Linked DNA regions of Homo sapiens: regions 1 and 3 are each linked to region 2. The links come from fine-mapping of genetic effects on plasma protein levels. Region 2 holds a variant in brackets. A gene starts in each other region. All regions are shown on their reverse strands. Region 1 holds the start of PCDH1 (protocadherin 1). Region 2 overlaps TMEM236 (transmembrane protein 236). Region 3 holds the start of CNTN2 (contactin 2).

What was found. A credible set is the group of variants that fine-mapping cannot tell apart. PIP is the posterior inclusion probability: the model's chance that the variant is causal. The UK Biobank Pharma Proteomics Project read protein levels with antibody pairs (Olink). The fine-mapping took linkage between variants from a reference panel, not from the people measured, so its PIPs are less certain.
Region 1: it holds the start of PCDH1, and the variant in region 2 is the best candidate, but not a certain one, in a credible set for the plasma level of the PCDH1 protein (UK Biobank, PIP 0.70).
Region 3: CNTN2 starts here. The variant in region 2 is the best candidate, but not a certain one, in a credible set for the plasma level of the CNTN2 protein (UK Biobank, PIP 0.51).

What each region holds. Positions count from the first base shown.
Region 1 is chr5:141,875,502-141,878,997 of GRCh38, reverse strand. It overlaps PCDH1 (protocadherin 1), which reads left to right and starts at 588. Exons shown (of 5, transcript NM_032420.5): 1 at 588-775. The coding sequence starts at 736. RefSeq lists enhancers at 590-1,339, 1,606-2,290.
Region 2 is chr10:17,797,850-17,807,499 of GRCh38, reverse strand. It overlaps TMEM236 (transmembrane protein 236), which reads right to left. Exons shown (of 4, transcript NM_001098844.3): 4 at 6,632-9,650. Among named protein-coding and RNA genes, the nearest start is that of MRC1, 6.7 kb to the left of the region's middle. The variant A/G (reference allele first, on the strand shown) is at 3,504.
Region 3 is chr1:205,037,810-205,049,689 of GRCh38, reverse strand. CNTN2 (contactin 2) reads right to left here and starts at 6,478. Exons shown (of 23, transcript NM_005076.5): 1 at 6,296-6,478. RefSeq lists enhancers at 1,977-2,481, 6,548-6,692, 6,640-6,784 and cis regulatory regions at 6,620, 6,712.

The DNA.
Region 1 (3,496 bases), not on the chromosome of region 2:
CCCTCCATAGCCCCACCCCCACGGCTTGCTGCGGCCACCGAGGCTGACCGCTCTGCGGCTTCGGCCGGAGGGGGAGGGGTGGACTTTCCCCGAGCGCAGCGGGAAGGGAGGGCCACACAGGGCGATCGGGGATCTGGGCGGGAAGAGGGTGGATATGGAGGAGCAGGTGCCCAGGGAAGAAGGCGCTGTGGGAGACACTTCCCTTGCCTCGACTTCCCAGGGGGCAGACAGAGCTGGGGACAGGTGTTTGAGTAGGGTAAGGAGGGGAATCCAGGAGCGGTCCTAGATGGAGGCTTGGGTGGGATAAGTGTAAGGTGAAGCTCAGAGGAGGGCACGGCCTGTGTACTGGGCCTCGGGCAGTGAAGAGATGGCAGAGGGAGGGGTCCAGGCTTTGGGGAGCGGTGCTCGGGGTCCCCTCCCAGCCGGACCGGAGCGGTCCCGAGCTCCACCTCCCGGCCGGAGGGGGGGCGGGGAGGCGGGCGGGCCGGGAGGGAGGGGGGAGGGAGGGGGCGGGCCGGGCTGTGCGCTCCGCTCTCTGCTGGCTCCGCCGCCGCCGCCGCCGCCGCCGCCGCCGCCGCCGCCGCCTCACACACTCGGGGAGCGGGAGCGCGGCGCGGACGCAAAGCCGCCGGGCTGCTGCGCCCAGAGCCAGCCGGAGCCGGAGCCGGAGCCCGAACTGCAGCTCCAGCCCCAGCCGTGCGGAGCCGCAGCCCAGGCCGGGGCCGGCGGCGGCTCATGGACAGCGGGGCGGGCGGCCGGCGCTGCCCGGAGGCGGGTAAGGATCCGGCGGCGGTGGAGGCAGCAGCGGCTTGGGGCCCGAAGCGGTCATGGCCGGCGGGAGCTGAGGGAGGGGCGCTCGGCGGAGCGAGGCCGCGGGGGCCCAACACGAGCTCGGCGCGAGGGGGCTGAGGTGGGGGCTGCTGGGAGCCCATAGCAGGGGATGCGGCTGAGGGATTCCGTCCTCCCAGGTCCGCGGCGAGAAGCCGAGGGAGGGGAGGGGGTGCTGAGCAGAACCCTAGTCCCCGCGTCCCAAACCTGGGCGCGCTCGGAGAGACGGGGATAAGGAGACTCCAGGAGCGCGCGGCGTGGAGGATGGGTTTGGGGAAGCGCGCGGCCCCCAGTTTGGTGGGGGTCTCCCGGAGGACGGAGCAAGCAAGGACCGTTGTCCACAACACATACATACACACTTGTTGGGCAACTACCTCGGCTCACTCAGCCGCTTCCAGCTTCTCGCGGGCACCCAGAGGGCCAGACCGTGGACATATATACACACATACATACATCCCTGCATATGTGCACACAGACATACCTCCCGCACACCAGCGCCCACTGGGGCACCGTCGCCAGCTCAGAATCCGCTTCAGTGTCTGCACGATCAGCAGCACCGACACACAACCCGTGGCTTTACAGAGCAATAACACAACCGGGTGTGACACCCCGCGACGTGGACACACAAACACAATCTCGTGCCCTCATGTACGAGTGTCACAGCCACAGTTCACTAGATGAACCCTCAAAACCTAGCCACCCCCCACATTCCTTTAAGGAACACACCCTAGCATATATCATCTTACCCACTTCTTGGCCAGAACATAGGTACACAGCACAGGTCTCCTTGCACCCCTCTACTGCACCCACACAAACACACAACCCAGTATCTCAGCACACGCTTGATGGCACACACTCTAACACAGGAATTGGCACCTACAGCAGCGCCTCACGGTCACAAACACAGAATCCACTGCTTCACCCATCTTAACACTGGGTGTCACACACACCTTAAACCAACAGTGTCACATTACATTACACCCTGCAGCGCATACACACAAACACACACACTCCGTTCCTCTCTCTCGGAGTCCAGATTCAGGCAGGAGAAGCCGCCGGGGTCGTTCGGCGAGCCCCAAGCGCCCCGCCACGTTAATCGCGACATTATTATTGTAAATATCGGCACAGCGGGAAGGCTGGGCCGGCCTGCCGGCTTCCCAGTCGGCGCCTCCCCAACCCCCACTCCCGGGCCGAACCGGCTGGTGTTCCGGGAACAAGCTGGACCTGGCTGGCCAAGCCATCCCGCCTCCCCGGAGCTCTGGGGCCCCAGGTTCCTTTGTAGAGGGTGCTAGCCTGGGACGGTGATTGCGACCCTCTTCCAGCCATTTAGCTGAGTTTTCTGAGCCACCTGGGTCTCCAGCACACCTGGGTCCCACACACCTTGGTGGGTCCCGCACACCTGGGTTCGTCTCACACCTGAGCGCCCCCTCCGCCTGGTCCCCGCTGTAGGCCAGTGTGTGCGCGGGCAGGCCCTGGAGCCAGAACGGAGATCGCGGCAGGCATAGGAGCAGAATTTGTAGGCGAGGTGGTCTCGCACCCCTTCCCCCCAGCTACCCTCTGTAAGTCAGAATTCTGGCCTCAGTTTCCCCAACAGTGGTCGGCTACTATTTCTTCTGCCAGGAAAGACTGGGGGCGGCACTGAGGCCTTGGAGGATTGAGCGTAGGGCAAAAAACCCCCTCTGCTCGCCACGAGAGGGTCGGTTTTATGAGAATGTCCCCGCCTAGCCGGGTTCGCGGCTTTGTGATTCCGGCGCCGGCTCCCTCCCCGCCCCCTCCTGGCGCCCGCTGCGCCGCTCGCGCCGGCTCCGGCTTGCGGGGGACCCTAGGCCGAGGCCGGAGATGCCGGGGAGGAGGGATTCCCCGCGGTGGCCTGGGTGCGGGGGGCGCAAGGGCTCCCCCCACTAGCCGAAGCGCGTTCTCACCACGCCGCGCCCTAGCCTTGCCTTGGGTTCCTGGAGGCTGGGCGCTGCCGGGGTGGGGGTGGGGCCGCCAGAGCCCAAGAAACTGCCGCCGTCCCCCCCGCCACCCCCTAATCTCCGCAACACACACACACACTCGGCGTCCTCTGGGAGGAGTCGCTCCGCGCGCTGGGTGTGTGCTGGGAGCGCCCGCTGACCAAGGCGGTGCGGACTGGGGCTGCTTGGGTCGCTTCGTGCAGGAAGACGCCGCGAGGCTTCTAGCACCTGCTCTGGGTCAACCCTCGGGAGCTGCCAGGGAAGGGGCCGCCCAGAAAGTTTTTATGACAAGCCGGAGGTCTAGCTGTGTTTGTAGGGGGTGGGGGGCGCGGGAGTAGGTGGGTGTTACTTTATTGACGTTAAGGTCTGGGGGAATTGGAACCTGTAATTACAACTAGACTAGGGCATGGGGTGGAATCGAGGGGAGAGGCAGACTGGCCCCCAGAGGTAGCCAGAGGCAGTGTGATAGGGAGGCAAGTCTGGATTCAGTTCTGGCCGCATTTAGTTTTTACCCCTTCTCCTACCCACCTCCAATTCCCAATTCCAAAAGGGACTTCAGCTGGAAGTGGGTGTCTTGCTGGTCTGCCATCTTCTTAGCAGAGGGGCTGCTGCTGTGGCTACTTCTGCAGGGGAGCTGGGCAAGCGATAGTAAGCTAATTGCTGAGAAGGGGGTTGAAGGGCCAGGAGGGGGCCGCGAGGGTGGGGGAGGAGCT
Region 2 (9,650 bases):
ACTGCAACCTCCACCTCCCGGGTTCAAGCGATTCTCCTACCTCAGCCTCCCAAGTGGCTGGGATTACAGGCGCGTGCCATGATGCCCAGCTATTTTTTGCATTTTTAGTATAGACGGGGTTTCACCATGTTGGCCAGGCTGGTCTCAAACCCCTGACCTCAAGTGATCCGCCCGCCTTGGCCTCTGAAAGTGCTGGGATTACAGACGTGTGCCACCATACCTGGCCCAGGGTTTGTTTTTTAATTACATAAGTGTGTATATCACATTAGTAAAATTAAAAATTAGGATCAGTACTAAAATCTGTGAAGTTTAAACAAAATGCAGCCAACCACCCCACAAAGAATTTACCCCATGACCTTGACCTCGTTGAAACAAAGATTTATCAGGCTACAAGAGGCCACTGGGGCAAAAAATAAATCCAAATCTTGGGGAAGGGATGTCACAGAAGATGGTGGTGTGGGAAACTCCAGGAATTCATCCCTCCATCTAAGCAGCCATCAAATGGACAGGAACTGACTGAAGTAACTGCAGGTGCTCCTCTACTCATGATCAAATTAGGCCCTGTTAAACCCAATGTGAGTTGAAATATGCTAAGTCAAAAATGCACTTAATACACCTGACCTACCAAACATCACGGCTCAGCGTAGCCTACCTTAAACGTGTTGAGAACACTTACATTAGCTTCCAACTGGGCAAAATTGATAGGGACAGGAGGCAGAGAAGTGCTAGGTAGAGAAGGGCAGGATCCCTGGCGAGGGCTCCACCCTCGGACCTGTGCCCACGGACCTAAGTGGGAACAGGCACTCCTGTTTTCATGCGCAAATGTTACATTTCCAAGACCACTATGATTCACCACACCCCGCATCCTGTGCCCATAAAAACCTGAGACCTTAATGGGCATAGACACAAGCGCTAAACATTGAGAAGAGTGAAGGAATAGAGCAGTGGAGAGCAGTGGGGTGGCGCAGCAGAGAAAGAGAGAAGAAGGACATCTGGACACCAAGGGGAGTTTGGCCAGCAGTGGTTGGAGAATAGTCTGGGGGGTTAGGCAGCCTGGCTCCAGGGGAAGACCACCTTCCCACTCCACTCCCCACTTCCAGTTCCCCATCCATCTCGCTGAGAGCCACCTACACCACTCAATAAAACCTTGCACTCAACCCTCCAGCCCACATGTGATCTGATTCTTCCAGTACACTGGGCAAGAACTCAGGCTGTCACACTGCCTCCCTGTCCTTGTGATAAGGCAGAGGGTCTATTGAGCTGACTAACACAAGCTGTCTGCAGATGGTATAGCTGAAAGAGCACACTGTAACACACGCCCACTTGGGCTTCAGGAGTCCTAGATGCTGCCGTGGGGTGGAGCCCAAAAGCACTCCCCACAGCCTCTGCACCTGCCCATCTGCATGCTGCATGCTCCCCCCTAGGGGTTTGAGCAGCAGGGCACCAAAGGAGCAAGCCTCATTCCTGTCGCACCCCCTGCGAGGGTCATAAGGGAACTCTTCTATTTCAAAATCATCTAACAAAACCTATTTTATAATACAGTGTTGAGTATCTCGTAATTTATTGGATATGGTACTAAAAGTGAGAAGCAGAATGGGTGTATGGGTATTCGAAATACATTTTCTACTGAATGCACCATTTCTATTTCACATCATCATAAAGTGGGTAAATCATTATGTCTAACAATCCTAAGTCAAGGACCATCTGTATTTGGGAACTAGTCTAGTCAGAAACTTGGAGCATCCAAGGGAGAGCTTGATAAAGAGGCTGGTACATTTCAGCGAATTTCAGCTTCTCCCTGTGGTTATGGCTGTGTCAGGCAGCTGTGAAGGGGGAAGCAGCCCACACGCCCAGTGCAGCTAGGTGAGGCCAGGCCGGGCAACAAGGATTTAGCCCTCCAAATGTCAGGACTGTGTGTTCTGATTGGTGCTTTTATTTGCTTTCATCACTTCTCTTCAACTTAGTACTGGAAGTTCTAATAAGAGCATGTAGGAAAGAAAAAAATAAATAAAAGCATCCAAATTAAAAAGGAAGAAGTGAAATTATCTCTGTACACAGATGGCCTGATTTTAAATGTAGGAAGTCCTAAAGCTTACACACACACACACACACACACACCACACACAAATACCACATACACATACACAATAGACACATACACACCACACACACACACCACACACACATACATACACACGCCACACACACACACATACACACCACACACACAAACTGTAGCACTAACAAATTTAACAAAGTTGCAGGACACAAAATCAAAACACAAAAATCAGTTGAATTTTGATACACTTGTAATGAACAATCTGAAAATAAAATTAAGAAAATTCCATTTGCAATAGAATCAAAAAGAACAAAATACTTAGGAATAAATTTAACTACGTAGACAAAAGACTTGTCCACTGAAAACTACAAATGGTTGCTGAAAGAAAAAGACCTAAATAAATGAAAAGATACCCTGTGTTCATGAAATGGAAGACTTGATATTGTTAAGATGTCAATATTATCCAATATAATCTATAGATTCATGCAATCCCTATCAAAATCCCAATGATTTTTTTTTTTTGCAGAAATGAAAAACCCCATCCTAAAGTTCATATGGAATTTCATGGGAGTCTGCACAGCCAAAACAATTTTGAAAAAGAATGAAGTTGAACGATTCACACTTCCTGATTTCAAATCATACTACAAAATGACAGTAATCTAAACAGTGTGGTACAGGCATAAGGATAGCCATATAGGCCAATGGAATACAATAGAGAGGCCAGAAATAAACCTATGTGGGCAGTTGATTTCCAACAAGGTGCCAAAAGCATTCAATGAGGAAAGAACAGCATTTGTGCTGGGAAAACTGGCCATCCACAGGAAAGAGAATGAAATTGGACTCTTACCTTACATTAAATACAAAAATTAACCCAAAGTGGATCAAATGCCTAAACATAAGAGCTAAAAACTATAAAACTCTTAGAAGAAAACGTCAGGAAATAAAATCTTCACAACATTGGATTTGACAATGATTTCTTGGATTGGATACCAAAAACACAAGCAATAAAAAAGTAGATAAAAAGGCCTTTATCACAGTTAAAAACTGTGTCCACCAAAGTACACTATCTAGAAAGTGAAAAGACAGCACAAAATAGAAAATATCTGTAAATCACATATCTGATTAAGGGATGAATATCCAGAATATATTAACAACTACAACTCAATAACCACAACAAAACCAAATACAAAATGGTCGGTGGACCTGAACAGATAATTCTCCAAAGAAGATATACAAGTGGCCAATAAGCTAAGCACATGTAAAGATGCTCAACATCATTAGTCATTAGGGAAATGTAAATCAAAACTACAATGAAATAGAATTTCACACCCAAAAGAATTATTACTTTAAAAAAACAGAAAATAACAAGTGATGGTGAGAATATGAGAAATTGGAACCCTCGGGCATTGCTGGCGGGAATGTAAAATGGTGTAGCCACTGCGGA[A/G]AACAGCTTGGCAATGCCTCACAAAGTTACACTATAATTATCATACGATCCAGCAATTCTACTTCTAGGTATATACCCAGAAGAACTGAAATTAGGGACTCAAACACATATTTGTACAACAATGTTCAAAGAAGTTTTACTTATGATAGCCAAAAAGTAGAAGCAACTCAGGTGTCTGTTAGCAGATAAACAAATGTGGTATGAACATACAGTGGGATATTATAGAGCCGTAAAAAGGAATCCTGATACCTGCTATATGTACAACCTTTCAACATTTTGCTAAGTGAAATAAGCCAAACATAAACGGACAAATATTATGTGATTCCACTTATGTGAGGTATATAGAATAGGTAAATTCAGAGACATAGGAAGAAGAGAGTTTACTAAGGGGTGGGAGGTGGAGGATGGAGGAGAATGGAGAGTTATTGTTTAATGGGCACAGAGCCCATTGGATGTTGGATGATGAAAAGTTCTGGAAATACAGAGTGGTGATAGTTAAACAACATGGTGAATATGTTTAGAGCCATTGAATTGTACAGTTGAAATGACTACAATAATAATTGTGTTATGTATCCTTTACCAAACTTTTTTAAAAATCCAACTCATGCCATCCTGTCTACACCCTTCTACTAAGTTCTGGTTCTGAATTTTGGTTAGCTATTGATGATGGTGGTTATTTTTAACTAGTCCTTTCTTCAAGCTAAAATATAAAGGAAATTCTCATTTTTTTATTGGCAAGACAATCAACTGTGTCATTTCCTCCTAGACTTTCTCAAACACCAGCCACCTCCTACCCACTCAGTTTCACGTATGATGAACTTAGTGTCTGCTTTGCTCTGAAATAGTTCCAAGAAAAATAGCTGGGCAAAATTTTTCATAACCTGTTACATCATTTCTCACAGATAAAACTGGTAAGCCCTTCAGAAATGGTGTTTTCAGTAAGCCTATCTTTTAATGAACAAATTTATTCAACTCTTATCAACATAATTCCTACCAGCCAAAAGAAAAAAAAGATATTTTTGAGTAAAAATTTAAAAATTTAGATGTTCTTATACCTCATATTTTTCAGTCCTTACCAAAACCATAGCAAAACATCAACAATGCATTTACAGTTTAATAGAAAACTACTATATCATAGCAATCCAATTTCTTTGCATTCAATTACTTACATAAAATTAGGCTTTAATTGTAACTGTCTTCAGATAACATATTTAGACTTATTGTAATCAACAGTGTGTAGATTCATAGTATTTGAAGGACCTTTGAATTTTGTATTTCTATAACCAATACTTTGTTTCATTTGGTTTTGTCTTGGCACACATCGTTTTAATATACTAAATTTTACAAAGTAATTTAATTAAAAGGCTATTTGACCCATTTAATTTTTGAAACAAATTTTTTTTTTTTGAGATGGAGTGTCGCTCTGTCACTCAGGCTGGAGGGCAGTGGCGCAGTCTCAGCTCACTACAAGCTCCGCCTCCTGGGTTCACGTCATTCTCCAGCCTCAGCCTCCCCAGTAACTGGGACTACAGGCACCCGCCACTACGCCTGGCTAATTTTTTGTATTTTTAGTAGAGATGGGATTTCACCGTGTTAGACAGCATGCAGGATGGTCTCGATCTACTGACCTCGTGATCCACCCGCCTCGGCCTCTCAAAGTGCTGGCGTGAGCCACTGCGCCCGGCAGAAACAAATTTTAAGAATAAGATTAAACATGTGTTTATAATCTGAAAGTGACCTATACTTTACAGATGGAAACCAAGACACAACAATGTTGGGCTGGTTCTTCAGAACAACACTTACTATGTAAGATTATGTATAATTTTTAGCAATTTGAAACGCAAATTTTCTATTTATTCACTCAAATATTCTGAACACCTCTAAGGTATCTGAGTTAAATATTTAAAAGAAAAAAGTTTTGTAGAGAAAGAAGGCATTCCTTAAAAATCCATTATTTCCATTTCAATATAAGAATAATTACAAGTTAAAATAAAAAATAATCTTATTAAAAATAGGCATATCTTGGGAAATTAAGATGTGTGTATATATAAATGCACACTTTCACAGCAAGTGTTACTTTAGTAAATATTATCCTCAAATTCATATAAAACCATACCTAGTCTATAACAGGCACTCAAATTTGTCAAATGACAAATTAATGAAATTTCCAAAAAATAATCTTCAGGATATGGTAATATATGTAAAAGCTCTTGTAAATAATTGTTAATACAAATATCTCAGGTTACTAAAGCTATTAATCACTAGTACTCAGGGATGTAGAGGTTGTGCATTGTTCAACCTGAAGGGGCGCTGTATGATTTAGAATTCATTAATTAATCTCACCTGTAAACATTGGAAACACCTTTCGAATGCAGTTGGATCTGGTTCTCAGTGTCTCTGTGTGGGCAGGTGTACATGGCTCTCTGTTTCTCTATTTTTTCACCTTCTGACTCTACTGTTTGTGTGTTTGGATTCGATTACTACAGAGCACAGAAGGTGGATGTGAGACAGACAACCAGGAAGCTGAACATTGTATAAGAGCTGTGACGGTTAATATTCAGTGTCCACTTGATCGGATTGAAGAATACAAAGTATTGTTCCTGGGTGTGTCTGTGAGGGTGTCGCCAAAGGAGATTAACATTTGAGTCAGTGAATGGGGAGAGGCAGACCCACCCTCAATCTGGGAGGGTACCATCTCATCAGCTGCCAGCACAGCTAGGATAAAAGCAGGCAGAGGAACGTGGAAGGACTAGACTTGCTGAGTCTTCTGGCCTCCATCCTTCTCCTGTGCTGGATGCTTCCTTCCCTCCAACATTGGACTCCATGTTCTTCAGCTTTTGGACTCTTGGACCTACACCAGTGGTTTGCCAGGGGCCCTCGGGCCTTTGGCCACAGACTGAAGACTGCACTGTCGGCTTCCGTATTTTTGAGGTTTTGAGACTCGGACTGGCTTCCTTGCTCCTCAGCCTGCAGATGGCCTACTGTGGGACTTCACCTTGTGATCGTGTGAGTCAATACTCCTTAATACACTCCCTTTCATATATACATCTATCCTATTAGTTCTGTCCCTCTAGAGGACTGACTAATACAAATGCATCCTCTCATAATGAAACAGCCATCACAAGAGATTTGTTTAAACATAGAATTTTAATTAACATGTAAAAACAGCCCCATTGTAAAACAAAATGTCTTTAGCCATTTCATTTTTTTCTTCTATTATTTACTATATCTTCTATGGAGTATAAGTAGCCATTTTTAAGTTTTGTAGCTTCTAAGTGGTATATTGCTCTTTTTGTGAACAACTATTGATATATTCACTATGTAAGGCCCTGCTCCAAGGTACACAGCACAAGGCAATTATGTATTAGGCAAACAGCATAGTGCCCAGAACATAGTAGGACTTCAGCAAGCAATTTCATTTCCCTTTTCTTTCCTATGCCTCATTGCAATTGTCATTCAGTGAAATGGGGCCCTAATAAGAAAAACAAGACGAGATAACATTTACACATTGTAATTTCAAACATTAACTTTTAGAAAGAAAAGGCACTAAAAAGTGTATTACAGGTATTAGAATTTTTTGTAAAATTATAAAATAAATAAAATTTTATAAAAATTACAGCATCAATAAAATTTTATAAAATTATAAAACTACTTTATAATTATAATGCAATAAAATTATTAGACTATATATTAATAGCCTAATCATAGATTAATTTTTAAATGCACATTCCTTTAACTAACTGTACTTGACTTTTTTTTTTTTTTGAGACAGAGTCTCAATCTGTTGCCCAGGCTGGAGCATAGTGGCGAGATCTCAGCTCACTGCAACCTCTGCCCTCCGGGTTCAAGCAATTCTGATTCAGCCTCCCGAGTAGCTGGGATTACAGGCATGCACCACCACTTTCAATGGCAAAAACCTCAATTACTTTTGCACCAACCTAATAATTTTAATAATATATATAACATTTAATTACAGTGTAGAACTATCAATGTTTTCGCAGTGTAATTTGCTGTAATATCTATTAAATCCCATAGACTTGCAGTCTATAAACATGTATACACTCTAAGTAAAATATTAAATGAAATTAAATTAGCTACTCAATTTTCCTCCTACACATAATCTTCTGTACATGCCTTCATTATTTGTATAGTGTTGTGACTTCCGAAAATATCAGGCACATTCATATTAAAATATTAGATACAAAATGCATTCTAAACTCAAGTAATACTTTTGAGTTTATCTGAGCACTGTTGCTAAGTTCTAATATGGAGATAAATATATACTTACACAAAATATTTTCATATTTAGGAATATCATAAATGAATCCCTTGATGACAGGCTTTTCTTAATAATAAAAAGATACCCATGGCAGAATTCGAAAGTAATTACTTGTATTATAATTTTTTTTTTGAGACTCTTGTCACCCAGGCTGGTGTGCAATGGCGCAATCTCAGCTCATTGCAACCTCTGCCTCCCAGGTTCAAGTGATTCTCCTGCCTCAGCCTCCCAAGTAGCTGAGACTACAGGCGCGTGCCACCACACCCAGCTAATTTTTGTATTTTTAGTACAGACGGTGTTTCACCATGTTGGCCAGGCTAGTCTCGAACTCTTGGCCTCAAGTGATCCGCCTGCCAAGGCCTCCGAAACTGTTGGCACTTGAGGCACTGCGCTGAGCCTTGTATTATAATTTTTTTAAGTTATAAGTCTTGTAAGCACCTGCAGCGTTGATTGATGAAGAGAGAGATGCATTGTTAAACAAGATGCCCTCAGGCTTTCCTTTAAGGAATAAAGATTAATAGGACACTCAGAAAAGTAAACACATAATGTAAGTGTGAATAAAGTGGTGTAATTCAGATTCTATGGGAACTCAGAGGACAGACACTCAAATGTCTGATGAATGAAGGCTTGTGTCCATTTTAATTTATATATTCAGCAGATCGATCACTTTTGAATACAATACTCCTCGATGAAAAAGTATAGTCTGAAGTAACCTTAAGATTGTATGTATTATTTTTCACAAATGCAAAGTTGAAATGATTATTCCCAGAGGGTGAGCAGGGCCACAGAAAAGAATAAAACAGGAAATTTCTAAAACTGCATTGAGATACTTGTTTCTTGGAGACTTGGTACCCGTTCCAATGCTTAGCATTTATCAAGTTATTATGGTTTGCCAGAAAATGTGCTCAAAGGACTCTTTACCCTTTAACCCTCCTAACCCTATTAATGTAGTACTAGTATTATGTTCATCTTTTACATGTGGAAACGGGGACCCACAGAGGTTATAGAACCTACCTCAAATTAGAAAGCTGGAAGGCAAGCTTTTAACAACTGTGAGTAAATCTTCTTTTACAGTGTGAGAAAAATCCTAAAACAGAGGGAAAGGGAGACAGGGTGGCAAGGGGAGAGGTATTTGGTGGAGCGTAGAATAACACAACGTCAAATTCTCTTTTATTTTTTTTAGATGGGTGTCACTCTGTTGCCCAGTCTGGAGTGCAGTGGCATGATCATAGCTCACTGTAGCCTTGACCTCCTGGGCTCAAGCAATCTTCCTGCCCCAGCCTCCTAAGTAGCTGGGACTATAGTTGCAGATCACCATGCCCAGCTAATTTTTGTATTTTTTGTAGAGGTAGAATCTCTCCATGTTGCCCAGGCTGGTCTCAGACTCCTGGACTCCAGTGATCTACCTGCCTCAACCTCCCAAAGTGCTGGGATTACACGTGTGAGCCACCACAGCCGGCCATATGTCAAATTCTTAAGCTTCATTCTTAAGCCATATGTCTCATTCTTAATGATTTGTTATCACAGATCATTGAAGAAACTGGCTACATAAATCATTACTCTTGCATTATCAGCCTCTCACAAATCTCTCTAGCATCTGAAAATTACTATCAAATGAACAGTGCTGACTGTTCAGAGTGTCCCAACAGGGTGAAAGCAAGTTGCATGACTCTGTATCTAATTATTTTATAACATCAATATATCCATGATATAGTATCACATAAGACACTGATACATTGGCTATTATATTTGTAAGCCGAACTTTTAATTTTAAACAGGGCTTGTACTTTGATTATTTATCAAAGTATCAAATTCCACAAATAAAATATTCTTTTACTTTGAAATCTCTGTCTTCACTTTATGGCTTT
Region 3 (11,880 bases), not on the chromosome of region 2:
TCAGGCCCGGGAGCTCACTGGGGGCAGGGTGCTGGCCTGGGGAGGAGCCTGGGCTCCAGGCACTTGTACTGAATGTGCCAGAGCAAGGCAGAGACAGACAACCAGGGGCTGGAGACTCCAGGATAGCCTCTGAGCAGATTCCTACCCGGAGTCCCTAGCTCCCACAGCAGTGTTGGTGACAGCTGGGTGTGTGTGCGCGTCTGTGTCCCAGTGTGCGTGGATGTAATGCTTGTGGGTATCTGTTGTGTCTATATGTCCCTGTGTATATGTGTGATATACATATATGTATATGTATATATGTGTATATGTATGTATGTGTCTATGTGTCTGTGTATGATGATGTCCGGTCTTTGTGTGTATGTCTGTGTGTGTGTGTGTGTGTGTGTGTGTGTGTGTGTGTGTGTGTGTCGGGTGTGAGGACTCAGCCCCTTGCCTTGTTTCCCTGAAACCCACCAGGAGGTTTGCATCATAGATCCTTCGCCTCCACCTCCAGTAGTCAGAATTATCTGTTATCTCTATTACCATAAGTAATTACCATGGGTAATCACGAATAATCCGGCCCAGGGATCCTGGGTACCCTCCAGGGATCGAGACATACAGCCTTAGAGGAGACTGCAGGGGAGGGGCTGGGATCCAGGAGCACCTGGGGTTGCCCTGGGGGAGCACCACAGACCCATCAGCCTGATCAGATGTATATTGAGCTCCATTGTGTGCCACAGCCTTGGGTGAACACACACACACACACACACACACACACACACACACACACACACACACACGCAGAGTCTGGGCTAAAGGCTGGAGCTCCTTGCCTCCCTAAAGGTGAGGCAGTTGGCGTCCAGTCTTGCCCTGCATCCATTTCCATCACAGTGTTTATTGACCATGTGCCAGGCATTGTGCTAAGCACAGGGGAGACAGTAATAAAATTACTGCCTCTACAGAGCTCCCCGACCGCCCGAGTGCAGCCTAGAATGCGCTCATGAGTTCACCGATCAGTCATCTCCCCATACCATCTGCCCTATTATGCGTTCTAGAATGCCCAGGATGGAGGAGGCCTTTTTGTCAGGAGCAAGGCTGGAGTGGAGCTATGCCAGGCCCAGAGCTGGCCCTGCGAACCCTGAGCCAGCCAAGCCTCGCCCAGGCCAGCTGCCCTGGTGCAGGGGTGCAGGCACAGACTGGCACAGGCAAGCACAGGCTGTCATCAGCAGGGGCTGGTCCTGCAAGGCACCAGCACATGGGGGAGTGGACCACTGGGGGGTTCGGGGGCACCAGGGGGAGTTGGCTGAATTGTCAGTCCCAGGAAACAAAGGGCCTGGGGGACAGCTGGGGGACAGAAGGCTATGAGTGGGGCTCCAACACACGACAAGGTTTTCTGGGATAAGGCCCCCCGCATGGAGCCAGTCAAAAAATAAAAGGTACACCCTCCACCCCAGAGTTCTCCCTACTGGGATGCCCAGCTCCTGGCCCTGAATCTGTCTCCCCTTCTCCCCAGTAATGGAGATTGGAGAGCAATGAGAGATTTGGCAACTTCCGATGGATGGTGGTAGCAAAGGGGAGTTCAGAGCCCAGCTGTGGGCAGAGACTAAGTGATTTATTATCAGCCTACAAAGTACTTGAGGAGCCCTTCAGGCCCCCGCTTGACCTCTATCCTATAAAACAGCACACTGGTTAACAGGGCAGGCCATTGAGTCAACCTGCCTGCTGCTGTCTAGCTAGTATAACCCTAATAAAACTAACTAGTATAACCTGGTTATCACAGTCGTTACTTAACCTCTCCCAGCCTCACTCTCCCATCTGCAAGAATGGGATGAGAAGGGCAGGACCCGCCCCATGGGGCTGCTGTGAGGTCAGCACCATCACAGGCTCATAGTGAGTGCTCAGGAAAGATCAGATCTTAGAACTGAGAAATCTCACAGCCGTGTGTCCGCAGCCACTGTGCCTGTCTGGCTTACTTCTATACAGTCACAACGTCCAGGCGGCACTCATATGTATTTAGGAGACTGACAAACCCACAATCTCCTGGGCAGGTGCCTCCCTCCTCTTACGCCTCAAAGGTGCAATGGTCATAGGTAAGCACTAGCACAGCACCCCAGACTAGGGCACAAGGACACAGCCCCCATGCCAGAGTTATACCTGGTACAATGTGCTCAGGGGGTCACGCGGCCAGGACAGGCACTCCCAAGCAGGTACTCCTTCTCAACAGCCCTCACCTCCTGCCTGATGGGATCTAAGATCAGTACCTTTTCCTTTGCCTAAGACAAGAATTGCCTCCTGGGACAGCACCATCATCCTCCAGGAAGGTCTGAACCATCCCCATGCCCCTCTGGTCAGTACAGGGCTCTGTGGTGGCGTGGGTGAGGGCTGCTAGGATCTCAGCGGGCCAGGCCAGGCTGCAGCTGGCAGGGGTGGGGTGAAGGATTGTGACTGAGGGGTCTCTGTGGTACCCTGAGCTGGAGACATCCTTAGGGCAGAAATGGGGACATAGGGACCTCCTCAGCCCCAATGGGGACCAGGGGTGTCGTGCAGCCCCGTCCTTCCTTAGTCCCCTCTGTGAGCTGCTCAGCTCTCTCTGCAGGCTCTTTGTGATTGCAGCTGCTTCCCCGAGGCCCAGCCCTGGTGCTGACGTGCCCTCTGGGGAGAGCTGTGGCTCCCAGGCTCATGGATTTGTTTGATCTTCTAGCATTGGGCAGGGGGGAGTCTGGCCCTTGATCTGAGCCTAGAGTCTTTGCCCCTGCAAGAGAGACCTACTCTAACAGAGAGACCCTTTAAAGTAGGGAGTGGACAGAAGAAGAGAGGCTTCCATCCTCCTGGGAAGCTCAGGATCAGAAGCCAGCCACCCCCAGACCTTAGGTTTTCCTACTTGCCTGCCCTGCTCTGTGTGTGGTGTGAGGCAGTGAGTGAGGGCTTTAGAAGGATCCCTTTTTGAGATGCCAGGCGTAAGAACAATGGTTTCAACTTGTTTCTGAAAAAGCAAATCAGGAAGAAAATTTCCTCGTGCATTAGCAGAGCAATTTCTGCTTGTCCCCCAACTCTGCTGCAAGGAGGCTCCCCCCAGTTCCTAGACAGCTTCCTCCAGGGTGGCTCAGAGCTTAAGCCTGGTGGGGGTGAGGTCCAACCTGCTCCTCCTCTCAAGCTAGTTTCCTTTGGATTTGGGGTCCAGATTAACTTCACCTCTTGGGCAGCACTGCAGGAAGGCTGCCCTCCAGCCAGGCACAGGGTGGGAGAACCCCTTGGTCAGGGTGTTCAGGGTGGCAGGCACTGAGAAGATGTGGGCTTAGGCTGGAGGAAGCCCAGCAGGTTTGACTAGATGGGTGTGTGTGAGGGGCTGGGGTTGACTTCCCCACCTACGTAGTGAACTGAATGTCTCATTAGGTAAAAAGGACACTGAGATGCGTTTGGGCCTGAGTGTGTCCTGGGATGGGAGGTGTTCAGGTTTTGGATGAGAATATCACACTCCTTGCTTTTGTTTGCATTCTCTTTGGTAAACAAAGAAACATGGGCTAATCTTGTAGCAAGGAATCATCAAACTAAGAAAGGACTTACTCTAGGATGGTTACCGTCAGGATACGGAGCCCACAGAAACTCCCATAAATGTTCCAGGTTAGCAACAGCCTCTGGGTGGTTTGTTTAGATTGGGGTTGTAGTCCTGAAGGATGAGGGGGTGGCCAGCATGCATGAGGGGATGAAAAGGATGTCTGCCTTCTTATGGATTCCTGAGTCACATCCACCTTTTACCATTTGAAAGAGGATTACTAGAAGTTGGAAGAAATTTACAGGGTCAGCCAGCCCAACCTTTGCCTCTAGGCAGGACTCTCTAACCTTGGACCAGACCCCAGTTCTCCACACCATCCTTAGAGTCATCTGAAAGGAGACTGCCCCACCTCCTCATGGCTCACTCTTCTAGCCAGGAAGTGTCTCCTGCAGTCTAACTTAAGTCCCTCTGGCTTCCCTGGCATATTCTTTGCTCTGGTTCTTCCTCCCCTGCATATCAATCACCTCTTCTCCAACCCCCTGGTTCTGCCCTAGGAATCCCTCCAAAAATACAAATACCACCCACACTCAGGCTTAGAGATTGTCTTTGAAATACGCTTTCTCACCAACGTTTGGCTCAAGGAGGTTTCTGAAGAGGGCACCATGCATCCTCCAAACCACCCCAAATGCGTTGCTTCCCTGGTGACTTTAGAGGCAGAAAGGATGCCTTGGGGTACACCTGTCTATGTACATGCTCCTAAGGAGTAAGTTTGGTCAGCCAGAGACGAGATGTGCAATCACCCCGTTAAGCACAATTCCTCGGAGGCCCATCCCACATGTGTCTCTATTTGAACAACTGCTGGCAGAGAAGGTGCTGGAATGGAGTTGCATAAGGAGTGAAATCTGGCAGGGGAAATGGTGGCGGCGGGAGGCTGAGGGCTGAAGCCGGTGGAGTACACGCGATGAGAGAAGGGAGTGCGAGGAAAGAAGGAGTAGAGGAAGGGAGGAGAGTAAGAGAGAAAGAGCCGGGAATGAGAGCAGACTCCTGGAGTCTGAGGCACTCATCTGCATAAGGAGTGTGCCTCTGCTTCCCTCACCGCTCATGGTGTGAGCACAGTGGTCTCTGCACCTGTGAGGCAGGTGGACCTTGGGTGACTTTGACATCATCAGGTCAGGGGCCCTTTCCTGTCTGTCTCACCTCCTGCCTCCCTCTTATTCGCTGAGGACTTCCACGGGAGATTAGGAAGGACTCTGACCTTGTGGCAAAAGCCCTGTCCATGGTTCTGCAGCTTGGCTAGAAAGGGGTTAACTGGTGGGCACCCTGGGGAGGGGCTTGGATGCTGCTGTCTTTAAGGGGAGAGCTCCCTTCTCCCAAGGCCAGGAGTGAGGGCACCTGTTGTGACCTCCAGGCCATCTCCCTGTCCAGGTGCGATCACAGCAGCCTCTCCCACAGGTGGCCCACCTTTTGCTGCACTCGATCTCCAGTGGCTCATCCGGCCCCTCTGAGTGGGACCAGGAGGTAGAGAGACTCGGAGGCTAAGTGAGCTGAGGCGTCTTTGGCCAGACGGTTGGGAGAGGAGGCCGAAACTGTTGCCCAGACGAGACCAGAACATCACCTGTGCACTGGGTTTCTTGGGCTGTTCCTCCTCCCAGCTCCTTCTGAGCAGAGGGAAAAGATGCTGAAACCCACCTTTCTCCAGGGCTGGGGCCATGGCATGCACAACCCCACTCCCTCCTGGCCTCACTGGACCCCCCCCCCCAGGACACAGGCTCAACCCCCAGGGGTCTGGGGCTAGAGGGTGCCCGTCTCCATCCCCAAGTAGCAGCAGGATTCTCCCCTTCCATAGGCACTGCCTTCTCCATGCCCCGCTGCTTCCCAGACCTGAGAGACCCTCTTGGAGAAGGTGACAGGATTCAGCTCTGGACACTCACTGGCTGGGGCTGCCCCCCACCTCCAGCCCATTATGTAAGCCCCACGGTGCTGGGCAGAAGGATTGCCCTCTCTTTCCAGAACTCCCCAGCTCTGCCCCTTCCCTTCCCCATACCATTCTGGCCCCAGCCCCTTTCCTTACTGGAAAGCCAAACTTTGTGCAAATTCTTCCCTCCCACCAGTGAGGATGGGGGGGAGGGATTTGAGGAGAAGCTAAGGTTGGGAGGGGGAAGGGAAGGAAAGGAATTTCAGCCCGGTAGCCCCAGCCTCTCGCCCTTTGGGATGTGACTGGCCTCAGGACTCTCCTCCCCGAGTCCCAGTTCCTGGACAGGCCCTTGCCCAAACTTGTGCTCCACTCTCCCCTCTCTCTTCCACAGCCCCCCTCTCCATCCAGCTGAAGCAAGACTTTGCAAAGAGGTCACCCTGCAGAGGTAGACCCTGGGTGACCTCAAAACTGGGGACTCCGGCTCAATTCCATGCAGGGACTTCTGGGGCAGGCCAGGGCCCAGGGCCTGGCTGTATGGACTGGTCCTGTCCTGGACCGGGTGCCCAGGGCCGGCCCAGGAGAAACTGCCCTCTCCACAGGCAGCTGCCACTGCCCGCTGGCCAACTGGAATTCCTGGACACACTCCTGGGGTCCAGCTTTTCGGCCAGGCTCGGCCTGAGAGAGCCCTGCGGGATGCCGCCCACGTAGACAGGGCGGAGGGGAGCCCCAGCACCCACCCTGGGGCTGAGGGGAGAAGTCAGAACGGCCCCAGCCTGCCAGTGTTCCTGTCCCTGTTCCCTCCCAAGTTACAAGGGGGATATTTACAGGAACTGAGCCGGGAGCCCCGGCCCATAACAGCACGCAGGGAAGTCCCTGGGTTGGAGGAGACAAAAGCGGTTGGCACCTACCTGGGGCGAGAGAAGGGTGTTGGCTGGGGCAGGTGGATGCTGCCCGAGTCGGTGAGCCGGGGCCGGCCGGGCCGCCAGCCCCTGTCTGGGCCGCTGTCCTTTGGGCCCTGGCGGCCTCAGCCGCTCGCTGTCCGGGTGCGGCGGCGGCCGCGGCGGCGGTGGCGGGTGAGGGCGCGTGTGTGTGAGCGCGCCCGGAGCCACTGCAGCATCTCTGCATCAAGATGTGCTCCTCCCTCTCCCAGGCTCCGCTCACTGGCTGGCTCTGGTCCTCAGCCAACGCTCGGGGGCCCTGGAGATGGCTTCCTTCTGCCCCCCTCCCACCCCACTTCCGTCCCCACCCTCCTGGCTTTACCTCATTTGCTGTCATTTAAGGACCAGGGAGCGAGCCCAGCGCGCGTCTTCCATAATGCATGGGCCGCTCATGGACAGGCCGCGGGGCGCTGTCTGGCCCGCCTGCCCTCCCGATCCTGCCCAGCCCCACTTCTAGTCCCCCTGCCCAGGGCTGAAGGGGCAGGAGAGGGGCGGGGTGAAGAGGGAAAAGAAAGTGGCTCTTACTCCTCAAACCCTGGAGACCCATGGAGCCAAAACTCCTGGTTTCCCCAGAAATCCCCTATCCGAGGAAGAGATCCAAATCAGAAATCCCAGCTTGCTGTGTGGGGCAAGTGGCAGGGAGGGGCTGTCTCTGTTGCCCGGTCCACCCCATGTTCCTCTTTATTGTTTCCCTTGTTCAAAAGTAGTTTGAGCTTTTTGTCAAAATATCTAAATATTAGAGGACATTTAAAAATACATAGTGAAAGTCCCTCAACCACTACTCTTAATAAATCTAAGTACATGCCCCCAGGTTTATTATTTTCGTGTATACAATTACATGGGTTAGTAGGGTTATTTCACACAAATGTGATTACATAAAACAGTAGGATTGGCCAAAGACTTTTAACTGTGTAACTGATCTTGGACACTTTTACGCATCAGTACGTTTGGATCCAATCCCATTTTTAAGCAACCAGCAGTGTGATGTCATGAAAAGCTCCCTGGATTAGGGGTCTGGGTGTCTGAAGCATACTCTGGGCTCCACAACCGACTGGCTGTGTGTGCTTGGCTAGGTGCCCTGCCCTCTCTGAGCCTCGCTGGTACCTGAAGGGATTAAAGATGGACACAGTCCTGCCAGCTCTGAGATTCTAAGTGCTCACCCTTGTCAGCGATGCCTTTCTCCTGCCCTGCTCCGGTCACGTGGGGGAGTGCCCAGGAAGGCTGTGGCCCGGAGGCGGAGGGACCAGCCATCTGCGGCACCAGTCGGCCCTGTCAGGCTGTCACTGTTGTCTCACCCCCCTCTGATCTGCCTGCTGTCCAGCTTGCACAGGCAAGACCGGTGAGCAGTCCAGATGCTGCAACAGCTGGCAGGGCCAGGCCAGCCTCCCAGTTTTAAATGGCTATACCTGTCAAGCCTGGATCATGGCTCCATGTCTCCCTGAGTGGAGGAGGTCCTGGGGACCTGGGCCAGAATGAGAGGGTCTGGAAAAGGAGAAGGAGTCGGGGAGGTTCTGCTGCTCAGCCTCCAAGGCTGGAATGTCTGCCCAGGTCCCACATGCGCTCCCCTCCTTTCCTTCTGAGCCCCTCCAAAGGGCTTGCCCAACTTGAGAGATAGTCTTCTTTGTTCCTGATGGGGAGGACTTGGATTTTGCTAATGATGTTTCTTAAATAATGTTGAATGCTGTTATATAGACAGACACATCAACCCCTTGCCAGGATATCTTTCCCTTCCTTCCCCTGCCCACACTGTCCTTGCCTATCTGTATGTCTGAGGGCTGGCACATTGGCTCTGAGCTCCTGAGGTGAACCTTGCTCTTTGGCACCATTCAAGTCAGCCTGGGCTCCAAAGAGAGGCTCTGCAAGTTCTCTCCTAGCAGAAAACGGCAGGAACAAGTCCTTGCCAAGAAAAGGATGCTATGTCTGCTGCAGGGGGCTGACGGGCCAGGAAATAGGCTGGCCCAGGAACCAACAGTCTGGAAATGCTTGCAAGGATTGCTTTAGACGGAGACAGCTGTCTTTGTGACTCTATTTTAGGACAGCTGCTGCCCTGTGGTGGGAGCTGGGTCTCTGGGGAGGGTCGTTAGCACAGGTGACTTGGGTCTTAAAGACTCTCAGATCTCAATGCAACCAGCATGCTCCATGTGGACTCTGGCAGACACAATAAGTGAAAACAAGAACATTTGCCAAGCCTAGACTTGGATGGGGAGACAGTTCCCAAAGTCTCATCTTCTCACTTGTCTGAAGCTCTCAGTGAAGTCTAGTATGAATGAGTTTGGGGAGATTAGGGGGATCTGCACTCCCAGTCTCTGAGATGCTCCTGTTCCTGAGGAGAGAGTGGGGTGGGCATTTGGGGGTGCAGGCTGAGTTTTGCTTGTGGGGCCCATTAGCTTGATAATAACAGAAATAATATCTGTTTTGAATGCCTCCCACATGCCGGGAGCTGTGCTAAATGCTTTACCTGAATTACTTGCGCAAGAGGTCCATGTTGTTATTATCCTCACTTTTCAGATGTTGCTCAGTAAGAGTAAGGAACTTGCTCAAAAGAAATAGTAAACAAGTGGAACCCTGGGCAACGTGGCGAAACCCCGTCTCAACAAAAAACACACAAAAATTAGCCAGTGTGGCAGTGCACACCTGTAGTCCCAGCTACCTAGGAGGCTGAGGTAGAAAGATCACCTGAGCCTGGGAGGTTAAGCCTGCAGTGAGCTGTGATCGTGCCACTGCACTCCAGCCTAGATGACAGAGTGAGGCCTGGGATCGGCCTCCAGCATCCTGGCTTAGCCACCGTGCCATGGACTCCAGCTACCTACTGTCTGTTCTTTTGAGGTGGGCAAAATAGGGGGCAGAACAGTTTCTTCTTCTTTGGTGACATCCAGAGCCCACAATCTTCAGTGCAGCTGACCATAAGGGCCACCTCTCCTTTCTGTGGCTGATCAATATGACTCCATGTTGTCCAGAGCTGGGACTCCACATCTCAAAGTTGAGTCCCCACAGACTTTCAAACAGGGCAAGAAAGGGCCAGTGAAGATAATCAGGTGGCTAGTCAAATGGCTTATAAATTTGTCCGCAAACATGTGGTGCTCCCTTGGTGGTGGTGGGTGGGGATCAGAAAGCATTTTGAGGGCCACCCAACCCTGCCCAGACCATCTGCTTCTTCCTACTGTAGCCACACAAGATTGATAGCAATGGAATCCAGTGGGTCTCTAACCGATCAAGAAGGGACCTCTAGGCCCCATCCCTGGGGACAAGTGGGGAGGAGATGAGACCCTGCCATGGCCCCAGGATGCTGCAGCTTTGCTGTCTCTTTCCTCACCACTCCCCCGCCTCACCTCTCCTTTCCTGGCCTCTCCCGCCACCAGCATCTTTGCCCAGACCCTTTTCCCAGGAGGCCATGTATTTATGGAGCAGCTCCTCTGCCTGGAATGTAGGGATCCAAGAGCCAGGGGATGCGGTCTTCAAAGTGCCAGTGACCTTTTTGGAAGCAGTGTGACAGTGGTAACAGGACTGTCCATCCACAGCTCTGGGGAAAACTGATATGGCCATAAGGAAAAGCTCTGCAGACAGACCCGTTTGACACCCAGTCCTGCTACTGAGGAGATGTGAGGCCATGGGCAAGCCACATACCTCTTCACCCAGAATATGGGGATGAAGACACATACCTCACTGAGTTGATGTGAGTGTTGAGTTACACGTGAAGTAGCTAGCACAGCAGGTGCTCAATAAATGTCAGTATTTCCCTTTTGGGATTTAGCCTCCCTCATCTGTAAAACAAGGATATGAGGCAGAGCAGTAAGGGCTGCAAGTGGTTGGGGTGGCTCTGGATTTGTAGTCAAGAGAACTGGACTCTGTCCCAGCTCTGTCACTCCTACCTGGATGACTCTGGGCAAGTAACAGAATGACACTTAATCGCCCAGATAATCCATTTCTTCACCAGTAAAATAGGAATGATCCTACTCCTATCTAGGATGGTAGTGAGGATATGTGAATTAAACATAATGGTTTTTAAAAGCACTTTGAATTGCAAAGTGCCATATCAAATACTGATGGCCATTCCCTCAGCTATGCAGTCCAAAAGGTAGGGATTATCTCATCAGTCCGTATTCTCCCAGTCCCCCACCCTCCTGTTTAGCACAGTGCCTGGTGCATGGTGGAGACTCAATAAATATTTGTTGACTGGGTGAATGAATGAAGGAGAGTAGCTATAGTAACCATTCAGAGGATGAGGAGAGAGGGAGGTAGGATGTGGGTGAAGCTTTCAGTGGGGGTGGGTGGGTGCATCTTGAATTGAGCCTGGATGGACAGAGAGGAGGTGGGGAATGTGTTTCTGGCATGGGGGCATGTGGTGTGGCAGGAGCCAAGATGTGGGGCCTGGGAAGGCCATGATTTGTGTAATGCCTGGAGAAGCCAAGTTGACCTAGCAGGGGTGCTGGAAGGAAGATCTCAATGCCCTGTCTGCATTTGCCTTCCTAATTTCATGTGAGGGCCCAGAGGGGTCTGTGGCCTGGAGGGGCCTAATTATTCTCTTTGCCATTTCAACCCAGGGCTCTTGCAGCTCCTTTTTCAGGCTTATAATAGATGATGCTAATGTCATTATTAATATTTAATAGTAATGATGCTAATAATGCCCTGCATTTATGTGGTCTCTCCAAAGAGCTCAAAGAACCCTGAGTTCTTTTTTTATGAAACAATTTGGCTGGTGTGGAAGGTGGGAGGGCAGGAGGGCAGGACAGTAGAGAGGGATTGAGTCACAAAGAAAGCAAAGCCAGAAAGGTGAAATGATTGGGCCAAGGTCACAGAGCAGTGGAGGTGGGGCTGGGCTAGGACTGGGTGCGTGGGTTCCCTGCCTGGAGCTCTGTCCTTGACTGCCCCAGGTCATCTGGGTTTAAGGAGGACGTTCCTGGTGGGGACATCTTTTGGTCCCGGTAAAAGCCATGCCATCCAGAGGATATGACAGAACAGTCTTGGGGGCAGCTGTGACCCTGGAAGTGGGCTGGGCTGAAGAGTCGATAACCTTTTGCTCTGTCTGCCCTTTACTAAGCCTGCCCGGGGTGGCTAATAGGCAGCCATGGAACATGGGAGCTGGAAGGGGCAGGTGGGGACATTGGAGTCCTTTACTAGATTCTGCAGGCCTCCCTGAGCCTTAGGCCAGACCCCTGTTTTCCAGGATCTCTGGGTGTCTGATGTACAACCTCTTGGAAGCAGTTTCAATCAGCCCACGTCAATGTGGAATCTCGGGGCTGCTGTGTAGCGTTACACAGGGAGCTCCTTCATGAAGAACAATGTCAGTGGTGCCCCCGGGAAGGAGACAGTGCAGAGTGGTTGGAAGGCCTTGGAGTCAGACAGATCTTGATTCCAATTCCACCCACCTTATTGATTGGCTGTGTGACCATAGGCTTCTAAGACTCAATTTCATCATCTGTAAAGTGGAGGAGAGGCTCTGCTTCAGAGAGCTGCGTGGATCAGCCGAGGCGAGGTACACATACATGTTGGACAGTGGAGGAGGCAGCGGGCATTTCAAGGTTCTGGCATCAGTGAAGGGAGTGTCCAGTGTGGGT